Regions from separate parts of the Homo sapiens genome. Here region 2 is linked to region 1. The links come from fine-mapping of genetic effects on gene expression. Tissue or cell type: whole blood. Region 1 holds a variant in brackets; the other region holds the start of a gene. All regions are shown on one strand. Distances are between the middles of the regions.

Region 1 (8,177 bases):
TTTGGTTAGTGGGAGCCCCTTCAAGCTGGCTTCTGTGGCCTTTGGACATACCCCATCACTTTTTGGGAGTACTTCCTCACTTTCTGGCACACGAAGATAGTCTGGGTAATCTGGACCTTGTTCTGCCCCATCCCTGGGGTTGGCCATTTTTCTGAGGAGTCCCGGTTCTTTCTAGGGAAGAGTAGGTGTTGAGGCACTAAGAGACCGTTTTCTTTTTTTTTTTTTTTTTGAGACGGAGTCTCGCTTTGTCACCCAGGCTAAAGTGCTGGAGTGCAGTGGCATGATCTCGGCTCACTGCAAGCTCCGCCTCCCAGGTTCACGCCGTTCTCCTGCCTCAGCCTCCCGAGTAGCTGGGACTACAGGCACCTGCCACCACGCCCGGCTAATTTTTTGTATTTTTAGTAGAGACGGGGTTTTGCCGTGTTAGCCAGGATGGTCTCGATCTCCTGACCTCGTGATCCGCCCACCTCGGCCTCCCACAGTGCTGGGATTACAGGCGTGAACCACCAGCCTGGCACTAAGAGACTCTGTTGCTACTTGGGTGTCATTGCTTTGAGGCCCTTCCTCTGGAGAGAGCTAGGAAGCACACATATTTTATATGTTTTAAAATTCTATTTATGTTTTGTAGAGATGGGGTCTTACTATGTTGTCCAGGCTGCTCTCAAACTCTTGGGCTCAGGTGATTCTCCTGCCTTGGCCTCACAAAGTATTGGGATTACAGGCATGAGCCACTGCGCCTGGCTGACATATTTTACAATAGTGAGTTCACATTGATACCTCTGATTCCATTCCAATATCACCAGCTTTTTCCTGAGCATTCCTCATTTCATCTTTCTTTCTTTCTTTCTTTCTTTTTTTTTTTCTTTTGAGATGGAGTCTCACTCTTGTTGCCCAGGCTAGGGTGCAATGGCACGATCTCGGCTCACCACAACCTCCGCCTCCCGGATTCAAGCTATTCTTCTGCCTCATTGTCCCAAGTAGCTGGGATTACAGGCATGCACCACCACGCCTGGTTAATTTTTTGTATTTTTAGTAGAGACAGGGTTTCTCCATGTTGGTCAGGCTGGTCTCAAACTCCCGACCTCAGGTGATCCTCCCGTCTTGGCCTCCCAAAGTGCTGGGATTACAGTCGTGAGCCACCGCGCCTGGCCCTAATTTTGTATTTTTAATAGAGATGGAGTTTCTCTATGTTGGCCAGGCTGGTCTCGAACTCCCAAGCTCAGGTGATCTGCCCGCCTCGTCCTCCCAAACTGCTGGGATTATGGGCCTGAGCCACCGCACCTGGCCCTATTATTATTTTTAAATAAAGTTCACTTGCTTCCATTTGCATTCAGTTTTAGTTTTCTCTCCTCTCTTTATTGATTTAATTTCCTTTATGAATATGTAAAACATTAACAAGGTTCTCAAATCAAACTATTCCAAAAGGTCTCCTAGGGAAACGTCATTTCCTCTCCATCTCCTCCACCTCATTTCCACCCAGTCCCCGTAGGTTACTAAATATTTTCTTAGTTTCTGCTTATCTACAGAAAGAGCCTTTTGATCCAGCTTATCAATTTGACTTCACACCTCTTTAAAATCCCTTTCATGGGCAGTCGCTAATGAGGAGGGTCCACATTTGGAAGGCTCAAGAGCTTTACTCCTTATTGGAGAAGCACGGGGCCAAAAGGAAAGACTTCGAGCAATGGGGTTGTAAGAAGTGGCACTGATTTTTTTCTCCTCCCCCCACAGGAGATCCACCACCTGCATCACCTGGTCAGCACCCTTATCCTCTCCTCCACCTCTGCCTACGCCGTCAGGTAGAGACTGCGGGTATCCTGGGATGGCGGGACCCAGATGACTCAGGACGCACCTTTCCATAAGGCAGTGATGGGAAGGTTCAGGACTCATGAAACACGTCAGAACCTATTTTTTCTCCCATAATATCCCCTTTTTCTCTCTCCCCGCCACCAGTTCCCCACCTCCACTGGCAAGGTCCTGTTCTGTCTTTTTTTTTGAGACAGAGTCTGGCTCTGTCGCCCAGGCTACAGTGCAGTTGCGCTATCTTGGCTCACTGCAACCTCTACCTCCCAGGTTCAAACAATTCTCCTGCCTCAGCCTCCCGAGTAGCTGGGATTACAGGTGCCCGGCACCGTGGCTGGCTAATTTTTGTATTTTTAGTAGAGATGGGGTTTCACCATCTTGACCAGGCTGGTCTTGAACTCCTGAGCTCATGATCTACCCGCCTCTGCCTCCCAAAGTGCTGGGATTACAGGCATGAGCCATTGCACCCCACCGGCCCTGTTCTTTTTCTTGGGCATGTAAATTAACCTCTACTGACCCCATCTAGCACATAAGAATGTATCTACTGGCTGGGCGAGGTGGCTCACGCCTGTAATCCCAACACTTTGGGAGGCCAAGGCAGGCAGATTGCTTGAGCTCAGGAGTTCGAGACCAGCCTGGCCAACATGGTGAAATCCCATCTCTACCAAAAATATAAAAACTTAGCTGGGCATGGTGGCGGGTGTCTGTGGTCCCAGCTACTTGGGAGGCTGAGGTGGGAGGATTGCTTGAGCCCTGGGGGCGGAGGTTGCAGTGAGCCGAGATTGCACCACTGCATTCCAGCCTGGGCAACAGAGTGAGACTCCGTCTCAGGAGAAAAAAAAAAAAAAAGCGCATCTAGCACATATATAGTGCAGCAGGGTTCCTGGAAGCATCTGGCGAATTTGTTATTCGTCAGCATTGGTTGCAAGGGACAGAGATCCTCTCGGGCCACCTTCAGATAGAGGCACACTGTAAGGAGTTGAGGAGCTGAAGCTGCTTTAGGTGTTGGCTTCTCTCTCCCTCTCTGGGGCTCTCATGAGCTCCATGCTCTCTCTCTCACTCCATCCCTGTCTCTTTCTCAGCTTCGCCCTCTTCTTTTGCTCCAAATGCTTTCTTACCTTCTACTAAGTTCTTCTCTGGCTTCTGTTTTCTCATGGTCCCTGATCGACATCAGCTGTGGCCTGGGTCGGCCTTAGGGTCTCTGTGATTTCTCTCTTTCTCTCTCTCTGTTAAAACAAACGTGGCAAAATTCACCATTTTAAAGCGTAGAATGTAGCAGCATTTAGTACATTCACGGGGCCGTGCAACCGCACCACTTCTGTCTAGATCTGAAATATTTCCATCACTCCAAAAGGAAAACTACCTGCCACCGGGAAGTACAGGAATCCTCGCTTTTTAGTCTTACTTGGGAGAAAGAATTCTGCCAAGAGACTGATTTAGCCAACAAAGAGAATTTACTGAAGGCAAATAGAGAACAGAGAGTTTACCTAGAGAGAGACAGTACACTCTGAAGGATGAGGAGAGCAGGCTGCTGAAAGAACGTGAGCCAGCAGCACACCGAGAGTTTTGTGTTGTGTTTCTAATATGATGT[C/T]GCACTCTTTTGAAGTTCTTGCTTCTGTCTTTTTTTTTTTTTTGAGACAGTTTCGCTCTTGCCACCCAGGCTGGAGTGCAGTGGTGCGATCTCAGCTCACTGCAATCTTCACCTCCCAGGTTCAAGCGATTCTCTTGCCTCAGCCTCCCAAGTAGTTGGGATTACAGGCATGCACCACCAGGTCTGGCTAATTTTTGTATTTTTAGTAGAGATGGAGTTTCACCATGTTGGCCAGGCTGGTTTCAAACTCCTGACTGCAGGTGATCCTCCTGCCTCCCAAAGTGCTGGGATTACAGCCTGAGCCACCGTGCCCAGCCAGTTCTCTGCTTTTTGTGACCACAGGATAACTGCAACCTGATTCAGCCCCATTCCTGTGACCCCAGGCTGGCCCTGCCCATCTGGGACACCAGCTGACTCCACCTCACCCCCCACAACCTCTGGCTGACCCCGCCCATCCCCAGGACCCCAGGCCGACCCCAGTCCAGCCTCCAGTCATCCTGACCCCGGCTGACCCCCGCAGGGAGGAGGCGAAGGCCAAGATGGGCTTGCTGCGGGAGCGCGCGGAGAAAGAGGAGGCCCAGAGCGAGATGGAGGCGCAGGTCCTGCAGCGGCAGATCTTGCACCTGGAGCAGCTGCACCACTTCCTCAAGCTCAAGAACAACGACCGGCAGCCGGATCCCGATGTCCTGGAGAAGCGTGAAAAGCAGGGTGAGGCTGGGGCTGCTGCCTTTGCATCTCAAGGGCCTGGCCGCCCCTGGGGCACCTGCAGCACACCTTCGTGCCCCAGGTGGGACCACACTTCGCTCCCCCTCACCCAGGAGGTCTCTGTGTTGGAGGCCACCCAGGAGGCCGACCTGCTGTTCTCTCTTCCCCTAGCCGGGGAGGTGGCCGAGGGCGTCTGGAAGACCTCCCAGGAGAGGCTGGTGCTTTGCTACGAGGACGCCCTGAATAAACTGTCCCAGCTGATGGGGGAGAGTGACCCTGACCTGTTGGTGCAGAAGTATCTGGAGAGTGAGTGGGGCCCTGGGTGGAGGGAGGAGGCCCGGGACCCCGGCACCCCCTGAGTCCAGTGCAGGCTGGCCTCAGCTCTGGCCCTGGGGAACTCCTCCATCTGTGCTGGAGGAACAAGGCGTCATGCCTGGGACCCGCCGCCCGCGTCCACTGGCGTCTTACCGTGGCCCTGTCTCTGCCCCTCCCCACCCCCTCCTAACTCCTGGGCCTGGGGTCACTCTCCACATCCTTCCCTCAACCCTGTCCCTCTCTGTTTCTCTCCTTACCCATATCTACCGTTCTCCCCGCCTGCATCTCCCCATCTCCCTTGCTATTGCCGAGTCTCTGGCTTTCCCTCTCTGCCTTGCTGTGTATTTCTGTGTCCCACCTGCCGTATCTTCCCACACCTCTTTGTCTCTGTGACTCCTCTCTGTTCGTCTCTCTGCCTTGGTTTCTGTGTGGCCTTCCTCATCTTCACTTTCTTTGGCCTTCTGTATGCCTCTCTGTCTCTGTTCTCTCTGTCTCTGTTTCTCTGTCTCCCTCTCTCTGGGCCCCGCCTTGCCCAACTCTCCCAGTCGAGGAGCGCAACTTTGCTGAGTTCAACTTCATCAACGAGCAGAACTTGGAGCTGGAGCATGTGCAGGAAGAGATCAAGGAGGTGAGTGAGGCCTGCCCTCTCCATCTCCTCCTCTCCTCCCGGCCTCCCCGCCCCCTTCCCTCCCTCAGCCTGCCTCCTGCTTCTTCCTAGCTCCACACCCCCAACTCCCGAGGCTGCCATCTGGCCCAGCATTCAGCCCTGTCCCCACAGATGCAGGAGGCTTTGGTGAGCGCACGTGCCAGCAAGGATGACCAGCATTTGCTGCAGGAGCAGCAGCAGAAGGTGTTGCAGCAGCGCATGGACAAGGTGCACTCGGAGGCTGAGCGCCTTGAGGCCCGCTTCCAGGATGTGCGGGGACAGCTGGAGAAGCTCAAGGCTGGTGAGCACCCATGGGCGCCCCCTCCCGAGCCTGGCTTCTCCACTTGGAAGGACACCATCAGCCCGCGGGGCTTGGAGGCATTGCATGGACAACCTGGTTCACTTGCTTATCAGTTGCCCCATATCTGTCCATCTTTCCAACCAGGGTCTATCCCTCCAACTGTCCCATGTCCATCTATCCATCCATCATCTGTCCCTCCAACTGTCCTACACCCATCCATCCATCCATCTATCAATGCATCCATCCATCCATCTAGGGTTGATCCCTCCAACTGTCCCATATCCATCCATCCATCCATCCATCCATCCATCCATCCATCCATCCATTCAACGTCTGTCTCTCCAATTATCCTATATCCATCCATCCATTCAGAGTCTATCCCTTCAACTGTCCTATATCCATCATCCATTCAGGATCTATTCCTTCATCTGTCCTATATCTATCTCTCCATCCAGGGTCTATCCCTCCATTCTGTCCCATATCCATCTATCTATCCAGGGTCTGTTCCTTCATCTGTTCTATATCTATCTACCCATCCAGGACCTACCCCTCCATCTGTCCTATATCCATCCATCCATTCATCCATCCATCCATCCATTCATCCACCCATCCATCCATCCATCCAGGGTCTATTCCTCCAACTGTCCTGTATCCATCATTCATCCAGGATCTATTCCTTCATCTGTCCTATATCTATCTCTCCATCCAGGTTCTATACCTCCATCTGTCCCATATCCATCTATCTATCCAGGGTCTATTCCTTCATCTGTCCCATATCTATCCATCCAGGATCTACCCCTTCATCTGTCCTATATCCATCTGTCCGTATATCCATCCATCCATCCATCCATCCATCCATCCATCCATCCATCCATCCAGGATCTATTCCTCCAACTGTCCCATGTCCATCCATCCATGCAGGGTCTATCCCTCCAACTGTCCCATGTCCATCCATCCATCCAGGGTCTATCCCTCCATCTGTCCCATGTCCATCAATCCATCCATTGTCTATCTGTCCATCTGCCTCCAACAGCCCCACATCCATCTGTTCATCCATCTATCTGCAATGACATTTGACTTTTGTCTTCCTAGTCTTAGTCTTAGTTACCAAATTTCTTCTTAGTCTTAGTTACCAAATTTCTTCTTAGTCTTAGTTACCAAAAATGTTATTATTTGTAAAGAAAATGATGATAAAATATAATAGCAATGTTTATTATGTGTCATTCACTGTGCAAGGCACTTATGCATTATTCCACTTGTTTCACAAAACACTAAAAAACAGATGCTGTCCCTCCAACTGTCCCATATCCATCATCCACCCATCCATCCATCTACCCAGTATTCATCCATGGATCATCCATGTACATCTCTGTCTATAAATGCCTAGCAGTGGGACCGATGGGTCTTAGGGTAGGTATATGTTGATATTTATTAGAAAATGCCGAACAGTTTTCCACACTGGTCGCAAGATTTTATGCTCTCACCTATGCGAGCATATGGGAGTCCCCGATGATCCACACCTTTTCCACCACTTCCTAGTGTCAGCCATTTTTTATCTTGTTTTGTTTTTGAGATGCAGTCTTGCTCTGTCACCAGGCTGGAGTGCAATGGCATGATCTCGGCTCACTGCAACCTCCGCTTCCTGGGTTCAAGCGATTCTCCTGCCTCAGCCTCTCCAGTAGCTGGGACTACAGGTGTGCGCCACCACGCCCAGCTAATTTTTGTATTTTTAGTAGAGTCGGGGTTTCATCACGTTGGCTAGGATGGTCTCGATCTCTTGACCTCGTGATCTGCCCGCCTCGGCCTCCCAAAGTGCTGGGATTACAGGCGTGAGCCCCCGTGCCTGGCCGTCAGCCATTTTAATATTAGCCATCTAACGTGTGTGCCGTACTCTCTCTATTAATTTAATTGGCATTTCCCTGGTGACTAATAATATTGAGCATCGTATTGGCCATTCAGATGTTTTTGTAAAGTTCCTGTTCAATCTTGTGCACTTGTTTTTTTAAAAATTGGGTTTGTCTTGCTATAACTGAGTTGAAGGAGTTCTTTGTATATTCTAGATACTAGACTTTTGGTAAATATTTTCTCTTATACTGTAGCTTGCCTTTTCATTTTTTTTGGTGATGAACTGAAGTTTCTTAGTTTTGAGGATATCTAATTTATGAAATTTTCTTTTTGTAGTTAATGACTTTGTGGCCTGCCTAAGAAATTTTTGCCTGTCCTGAGGTTACAAAGGCATTATGCTGTGTTTTCTCCTAGAAGTTTCATTGTTTGAACTCCCACATTGAAGTCTGTGACTTATGACAAATTGATTTGCATTATGGTATGAGGTAGGGGTCTAGAGTTTCCTTTTTAAAAATTTTTTTAGATTTTTTTCATTTATTTATTTTTTGAGAGGAATTTCGCTCTTTTGCCCAGGCTGGAGTGCAGTGGCACAATCTCGGCTCACTGCAACCTCTGCCACCCAGGTTCAAGCAGTTCTGCCTCAGCCTCCTGAGTTGCTGGGATTACAGGTGCCCGCCACCACGCCCAACTAATTTTGGTATTTTTAGTAGAGACGGGGTTTCGCCATGTTGGCAGGCTGGTCTCAAACTCCTGACCTCAGGTGATCTGCCCGCCTCAGTATCCCAAAGTGCTGGGATTACATATGCATGAGCCACTGTGCCCGGCCCTTTTTTTTTTTAGAGATAGGATTTTACTATGTTGTCCAGGCTAGTCTTGAACTCCTGGACTCAAGTGATCCTCCTGTCTTGGACTCCCAAAGTGCTGGGATTATAGGCATGAGCCACCACTCCTGGCTGAGTTTCTTTTTTTTTTTT
Region 2 (8,177 bases), 22 kb before region 1:
CCTCGGCGTGAATGGCATAGATCAAGGCGCCAGTAAACACCGCCACGCCTGCGGAAGATGAAAACCACACGTCATGCAGTGCCCCCTCAAGACTACATTTCCCAATATCCCATGGGGGCAAAGAAGCGCCGGAGGGCCCGTGGGCAGCGCCGCTGCCTGCTGGGAGTTGTGGTTCTTTCCCCCCCGCCCAGCGCCGTGCAACTGTAGCGCGGCCTTAGGTAACTGATTTAATCTCTCTAGGTCCAATAATATCTCTCTATCCATCCAAGGAATATTTTTGAGTGTGTTTCTATAAGCCAAACATGCAGTAGTAAATTCATAAACCAAGAGAGAAGCTTTGCAAGAACCTATAATGTTCCCCAAACTGACTGTGATTAAGTTAGCCCTTTGCACCTTAAGTCAAAAAATTAAAAAGTACGCAAAACTTCTTGAAGTATCTGATGCACAATAGGCACGCAAGAAACAGCGGTTGGCTGATATAAATACCATTATTATTATGATTTAGAGCTCTCTACTGAGGTACTAATTAGTTTATCCCCCCACGTCACGGCCGATCCCTGGGACCAAAACTATTTACCTATACCTCCTTCCCCAGCCCCGGCTCCCTGAAACTCTGAGTTCCCTGATGACTCATACGCACAAGCCATAACTATCATTAGCCACTGAAAACTACAAGTCCCAGCAATCCCTGGGGGCAGAGATGTAGCCCACGGAGGCACCTCTTGTGGCTCGTGGGGTGTTGAAAGTTGTTTTTTTCTACGAGAGGCCCATTCTCAGGGCCCCCAGCATCTTGACACACCCCACTCCCTTCTGCTCAATTCTTGGGGGATTAGGGTTGGGGAGGGGCAGTGCTCACTGGTGCAAAGCTGGCAGAGGCCGGTGGCATAGAAGAGACCTCCTCGTCGCATGGTGTAGAGCTGGAACATGAACAGGATGAAGGAGAGACAGCAGAGAATGAGGGAGAGCACCATGAGGACCTGCACCGCCTTCAGCCAGCCTGCAGTAAGGAGGACACAGAGGGGGACATCACCGTGGGTCCAGAGTTCCAGCTTCACCTGCTTGCTCACCATGTGACCCTTCTCTGCCCCATCCCTGCTCCCGTTTAGGCCCATACAAGCCTAGATACTTAGATGTATCACTTATTTTGACCTTGAGCCCTGTTACCTTGCTATATTCCCTTCTCAGTTCTAGTAGTTGCTTTGCCAATTTCCTTTTTCTTTTTTTTCTGAAACCAGGTCTTGCTCTGTTGCCCAAGCTGGAGTGCAGTGGTATAATCATGGCTCACTGCAGCCTCGTCCTTCAGGGCTCAAGAAATTCTCTCACCCCTGCCTCCTGAGTAGCTGGGACCACAGGCACAAGCCACCACAACCTGGGTAATTTTTAAATTTTTGTAGAGACAGGGTTTCCCTATGTTGTCCAGGCTGGTCTTGAACTCCTGGGCTTAAGTGATCCTTCCTCCTCAGCCTCCCAAGGTGCTGGGATTACAGGTGTGAGCCACTGTGTCTGTCTGCTTTGCAGAATTTTAATGGATTTTCTACATAAACAACATGTTTACTGGGAATAGAGACACTTTTTCCTAATTTATTTCCCATGCCCTTTATTTCTTTTTCTTGCCTTCTTGCATTGGCTACTCCAGTAAAAGGTTGAATAGAAGTGGTGAGAGCAGACCACTTCCTTTAATCTTAGTTTTGCATTAAATCTTTCACACAGAACTTTAGATAGATGCAGCTCTATTCCTTTAGAACTCCAATGCACCTGGCCCCACCCCTTTAGAACCTTAAGTGGTTTCAGCCCCATCCCCTTGGAATTTGGATGAAATGGTCCCAGGCATCCATTCAGAGCACCAGCCCCATCTCCTTAGAGCTTTGGAAAAATACTCTTGTCTTCTCAGAATCTTGGGAGATTTTTCTCTATTCTTTTTTTTTTTTTTTTTTTTTGAGACAGAATCTTGCTCTGTTGCCCAGGCTGGAGTGCAGTAGTGCAATCTCAGCTCACTGCAACCTCCACCTCCTGGGTTCAAGCGATTCTTCTGCCTCAGCCTCCCAAGTAGCTGGGACTACAGGCGCACGCCACCATGCCCGGCTAATTTTTTTGTATTTTTAGTAGAGACGGGGTTTCATCATCTTGGCCAGGCTGGTCTCGAACTCCTGGCCTCGTGATCTACCCGCCTTGGCCTCCCCTCTCTATTCTTTAAACCTATAGCATGCTTTTATCTATATGGCCTCTTCAGAACAGGAGGTACTGGCTGGATGTGGTGGCTCACGCCTGTAATCTCAGCACTTTGGGAGGCTGAAGCAGGTGGATTAGCTGAAGTCAGAAGTTCAAGACCAGCCTGGCCAACATGGTGAAACCTGTCTCTACTAAAAATGCAAAATTAGCCAGGCGTGGTGGCACACACCTGCAGTCCCAGCTACTCGGGAGGCTGAGGCAGGAGAATTGCTCGGACCCCGGAGGGAGAGGTTGCAGTGAGCCAAGATTGCGCCACTGCACTCCAGCCTGGGCAACCAGAGGAAAACTCGGTCTCAAAAAACAAAAACAAAAAAAACAAGAGGTAGGTACATCCAGACAGGCGGGACATGCATTAGCCCTAGGCACTCAGCCACTCAGGCCTGGACCCCGCCCACTCCAACTTTGTTGGGGGAGGGTTCCCAATTCTCAGTCCCATGAGGACACGAAGGGTTTACCTTCCCCTTTGAAGACCAGTCCCGCCGCCCTCACCCCTCACCATTCTCGCTGACATTACTGCAGGCCCATGTTTTGGTGTCGTTGTTCCACGTGCAGTCGTACCAGAGATTCAGGGACTCTTTCCCAGGGAGAGTCCACCAGGACTGGGATGGACAGAGAACGAAACAAGGGGCAGGGTTAGGAAAGGAGAGGGGATAGGGTCAGGCAGACTGTGGGAAGGGCTGGGAAAAGGGCAGGGTATCTGGGATGGGGCAGAACTGGGGAGAGTTAGGATTTAATATGAGAGGGGGTAGGGTCAGGACAGGGAGGAGGCATCGGAGGTAGAGCTAAAAGGGTTAACCTGGTGGTTCATGCCTGTAATCCCAGCACTGTGGGAGGCCGAGGCAGGTGGATCACTTGAGGCCAGGGGTTCGAGACCAGCCTGGGCAACATGGTGAAACCCCGTCTCTACCAAAATAAAAAAATTAGCCGGGCTTGGTGGCAGGTGCCTCTAATCCCAGCTACTTGGGGGGCTGAGACAGGAGAATCGCTTGAACCCGGGAGGCCGAGGTTGCAGTGAGCCGAGATCGCACCACTGCACTCCAGCCTGGGGGACAGAGTGAGACCCTTGTCTCAAAATAAATGAAATAAAATAAAAAAGAAATACTAGGTAAAGGGGGTGGGGCCAGAATGCCTTTAGAGGAGGGGCGTGGCAAGATTCCAAAGGGGAACAGAAGGGCCCTGAGCTCCAAGTAGGCTTACCTTGTCCAAAGTGGCCACGAAAAGCAGTATAAGAATGAGGATGTGAAGGGCTGAGACCACCAGCAAGAGGAGTGACATGGCTGCAGTGGAAGCCTGGGGAGGGGGAGCAGGGGACGGAGTCTCAAGAGGTTGGCACAGGCCAGGCACACTCACGCCTATAACCCCAGCACTTTGGGAGGCCGAGGCGGGAGGATCACCTGAGGTCAGGAGATCGAGACCAGCCTGGCCAACATGGTGAAACCCCATCTCTACTAAAAATACAAAATTAGCTGGGTGTGGTGGTGCACACCTGTAATCCCAGCTACTCGGGAGGCTGAGGCAGGAGAATCACTGGAATCCAGGAGGCAAAGGTTGCAATGAGCCAAGATCATGCCATTGCACTCCAGCCTGGGTGACAGAGAAAGACTCCGTCTCAAAAAAAAAAAAAAATTTGGCATAAAGGCAGGTGAGATGTCTCCTGATGGAGGAAGGGCATGGGTGCAGACTCCTGGGTCTCTCAGGGAGGAGACCGCTGGGGCCTGGATTCCTGAGATCCCCATTGGCTGGAGGGGTGGAGAGGGCCAAAGATGGACTCTTGGGTTCCTTGAATGAGGAGGACTAGCAATGTGGCTCCTCTCTCCCCAGAACCCTGACTCTGGGTTACATACAGGCCAGATAGTGAAAATTCAAGTTGAGACCCCACCCTGCACCCCGACATCAGGATTGAGGAGCTGCCCCCAGCAACAGGCATTCTTGACTCACACCACTCCTCTCCTGGGTTGAGGGGAGGAGGGGGACCTGGTGAGTCATCTGGTGACTCATCCCCACCCCCCCCCATCTCTAAGCACCAGGGAAACCCCAGCCCCTGGCTATGTCCACGAGGTCCTCACCCCACCCTGCTGCCAGACTGGTGACTGTTGGACATCTTCTGGAGGAAATGGATAGGATTCGCGCTGGGGGGAAGAGAGGCCCAAGAAGGAGTTAGCCTCCCAGGACTCTTTGGTGCCCAGGAACAGGGGACCTAGAGGTCTCCCAGATTTGGGGTGTTCTCATGCAATGCCCTGATCTCAGGGACCCCAGAGGACAGTGGACACCGCTGAGGGAAAAACTGCAGGAAGTTTTCCAGTGGAGGGCTCTGCTGGGACCCCAAAACTTTGCCGGGCCCCACCCCTTCCCATATCCCCACCTCAAGTGCTAAGAGATCACTTATTAAATTAAAAGGATTTCCAAGAGTCAGGGACGTCTCTCCCAGCCTGGGGGTGTCCTTCCCAAACTGCTACATTCCCAAGTAAATTAAGAAGTCCCAGCCCTGAATAACGGACTGGAAACTTACCGAGAGCCGCGAAAAAAGTCAGAGCTGGAGTCGGAGTCTTGTCCCTCGCTCGGGCCTCCGTGCCCCGCCCTTCTCCTCCCTCCTTTCACCCTCCCGAGGCCCCCGCCTCTCTCACCGCCTTCCTCCCTCCCTTGCTCTCCCCTCCAATCCAGAACCCTTTCTCTCTCGCTCGCTCTCCTTCTGCGTCTCTTCTCTCCCTCCTGCCCTCACTGTCTGGGCCTCCTTCTCTCTTGCTCCCGTTTCTCTTTCTCTCCTCCTCTCAATATATACTGACCCTTTTATAAACCCACCCTCACCGCACCCAGCTGAGGTCGGCTGCCAGTGGGAGGGCCCAGGCACTCCGGTTCCTCTTTCTTTGGGCCCCCACCCAATCCCTCCAGACAGACATCATCTGGGGCTCCCTCCCAGGGTTGAGATGAGAAACTCTTGGAATGGGGTTCTTGGGGGGGGCAAGCGTCAGGGGTGGGAGGGCCCGATTCTCAGGACCCTTGAGTTTTGAGGTCTTGCCCTGGGGCCGGATGTCTGCTTTCCCTGATGGAGCTTGGAGCTGGATAGGAGTCTGGGAAAAGAGGCCAGATTTCTGTGGCATGGACTTGAGATTGGGCTGGTGAAGTTGGCCCCGTGGTGGGGGGTCAGAGGATGGGAGATGAAATTTGTGAAACTCGGCAGGGCGTTGTGGCTCACGCCTGTAATCCCAGCACTTTGGGAGGCCGAGACGGGCAGATCATCTGAGGTCAGGAGTTCGAGACCAGCCTGGCCAACATGGTGGAAACCCGTCTCTATCAAAAATACAAAAATTAGCCGGGCGTGGTGGCGGGCGACTGTAATCCCAGCTACTTGGGAGGCTGAGCCATGAGAATCGCTTGAACGCGAGAGGTGGAGGCTGCAGTGAGTTGAGTTTGCACCACTGCCTTCCAACCTGGGGGACAAAGTGAGATTCTGTCGCAAAAAAAAAACAAAACAAAACAAAAAACAAACAAACAAAAAAAAAAACCTTGTGAAACTCTGGAAGCGGGGAGGAAGCGGAAGCTAAGAATCCCAGCGCCATCATTTCCTGGTTCAGTGACCTTGAGCCAATTATTTCACCCACCTGGGCTCCAGTATCTTAGTCTATGTTGAGAGTATAATAATGCTGACAAAATACTAATACTGATAATAATAATTCTGATACTTATGCTGAATGAATAAGGTAATACTGGCACACTCACACACCTAACCTGTTCCTTCCTTCATCAAACATTTATTGAACATGTACTCTGATCTGGGAGTTAATAATGAAAACAGACATGAGCCCTGCTGGTATTATGGAGCTTGTATTCTAGTAGAGGAAGACAGACAAGAGAAAACATCAATGATGAAGATAAATCTCAGATAAGGATAAGTGACTTGAAAAATAAATACAATAGGCTGGACGTGGTGGCTCATGCCTGTAATCTCAGCACTTTGGGAGGCCAAGGCTGGAGGATCACCTGAGGTCGAGAGTTCAAGACCAGCCTGGCCAACATGGTGAAACCCTGTCTCTACTAAAAATACAAAAATTAGCCAGGCATGGTAGTGGGCGCCTGTAACCCAGCTACTCAGGAGGCTGAGACAGGAGAATTGCTTGAACCCGGGAGGCGGAGGTTGCAGTAAGCTGAAATCACGCTACTGCACTCCATCCTGGGTGACAGAGCAAGACTCCATCTTAAAGAAAAAAAAAAATAAAAGAAGAAAAGAAAAATAAATACAATAATAAATCAAACAGAGTGATGGAGATAATGACAGAGTGCAGGGAAGACTACTTGAAACAGGAAAATCAGGGAAGGCCTCTTGGAGGAGGTAACATTTGAGCTGAAGACAGGAGTCATTTGAACGCTGGGGTTGGGGAGTGGTGGGGGGGCGTCGGGGGGAGAGGAAGTGCAAAAGCTCTTAAAGCTTTTGAGAACAAGCTCAGGTTGTTTAGGGAGCAGACAGAAGGGCCAGTGTGGCTGGAGCACAGGGAGACAGAGGGAGTGGTGAGAAGGGAAATCAAAGGGTGCCCTTGAAGACTAGGGGAGGGGCTTGGATTTCATTCTAAGTGCAGTGGAAAGCCATTAGGTTTTAACAGAGTGTAGTACCAAAGATTTTTATTTTTTTTTTGAGATGGAGTCTTGCTCTGTCATCCAGGCTGGAGTGCAGTGGCATGATCTCAGCTCACTGCAACCTCCACCTCCCGGTTCAAGCGATTCTCCTGCCTCAGCCTCCTGAGTAGCTGGGATTACAGGTGCCCGCCACCACGCCCAGCCAATTTTTGTATTTTTAGTAGAGACGGGGGTTTCTCCATGTTGGCCAGGCTGGCCTCGAACTCCTGACCTCCAGTGATCTGCCTGCCTTGGCCTCCCAAAATGATGGGATTACAGGCGTAAGACACTGTGCCTGGCCCCAAAGGTTTACTGTTAACTATTATTATTAATTTTGGGGATATTAAATTAGGGTCGGGGTGATGACTACTATGTACACGAGTCTCTTGGGAGGGGACCAGGTGCCCAGAACTCTGATAAATTGAGAGCAGGGGAATTCAAATCCTGGATCCAGGGAAGGGAACTGGATGATGGGATGTCTGGGTATCTGATGGGCCAGAGCTGGGTTTGGGATAGCTGTTGGTGATTCGGGCTCCCTGAGGGGGTGAGGGATGGACAGTTCAGTGCTTGGCTGGGTACCCCAAGACCTGGAAGCTGGAATACCAGTATAGCACAGACTCTAGAGCCACACTGGTTGGACTCAAAATCCAAGCTGTTTTACTCAATGGCTGTGTAATTTTTGGCAAGTTACTAATAACTTCTCTATGCCTCAGTCTCTTCATCTGAAAAATAGAGATAATAGTAAATACATTATAGGGCAGTTCTTAGGGTAGTGCTAGTCATATCAGGCATTGGGGCTCTGAGTGGAGTCAGTACTGGGGGACCCTGATTCAGGATCTCTAGGAGTTGGGGAAGGGGCAAATTCTTGGGTCCATTGGGTCTCAAGGCTAAAGTTGGGAATCCAAAATGAGGGTCCCTGGGGGAGAATAAGTAGTCTCAAACTTAAGTGCCTGAGAGACAGAAACTGGGGTCCGCACTCAGATCCCTAAGGAAGTTGCAAAGTCTGGGTCACTGAAGGAAAAATTAGGGGCTGGGGAGACATACGTTCCTCTTGGGGAGCAGGAAAAGAGGGCTCCACTTTCTTGAGAGGACTAGGGGGAGCCAGGGGCTAGGAAGATGGAAACTTGAGCCGGGGAGGTGAAAAACACGAGTCTAGGACTCAGAATCAAGTTCCCTGAGTGGGATCGGCGCCAGGCTTGGGTACCCTGGGGATATTAGGGGGGTCCCCGCACTATGGCTATGTAGAAGGGGAAGAATCAAAGGATCTGAGGGTGGCGGCGGGATCTCCCCATCCTGGGCCTCCGAGATTATGAGCTGAGCTGAGCGTACGCAGGCCGCTT

The links. PIP is the estimated chance that this variant, and not a neighbour inherited with it, causes the effect.
Region 2: it holds the start of EMP3, and the variant in region 1 is fine-mapped to the expression of EMP3 in whole blood (TOPMed, PIP 0.94).

The regions. Positions count from the first base shown.
Region 1 is chr19:48,299,875-48,308,051 of GRCh38, reverse strand. It overlaps ODAD1 (outer dynein arm docking complex subunit 1), which reads left to right. Exons shown (of 16, transcript NM_001364171.2): 8 at 1,729-1,796; 9 at 3,912-4,099; 10 at 4,268-4,402; 11 at 4,957-5,039; 12 at 5,190-5,358. Among named protein-coding and RNA genes, the nearest start is that of ODAD1, 18 kb to the left of the region's middle. RefSeq lists enhancers at 3,680-4,203, 4,204-4,728. The variant C/T (reference allele first, on the strand shown) is at 3,392.
Region 2 is chr19:48,322,172-48,330,348 of GRCh38, reverse strand. EMP3 (epithelial membrane protein 3 (MAM blood group)) reads right to left here and starts at 4,797. Exons shown (of 5, transcript NM_001425.3): 1 at 4,739-4,797; 2 at 3,427-3,519; 3 at 2,726-2,828; 4 at 857-997; 5 at 1-48. The coding sequence starts at 3,504. LOC124904735 (a long non-coding RNA gene) reads right to left here. Exons shown (of 2, transcript XR_007067284.1): 2 at 6,827-7,559. RefSeq lists enhancers at 798-947, 3,914-3,983, 4,274-4,323, 4,924-4,973, 7,874-7,933 and 1 more and silencers at 5,551-5,782, 8,114-8,177.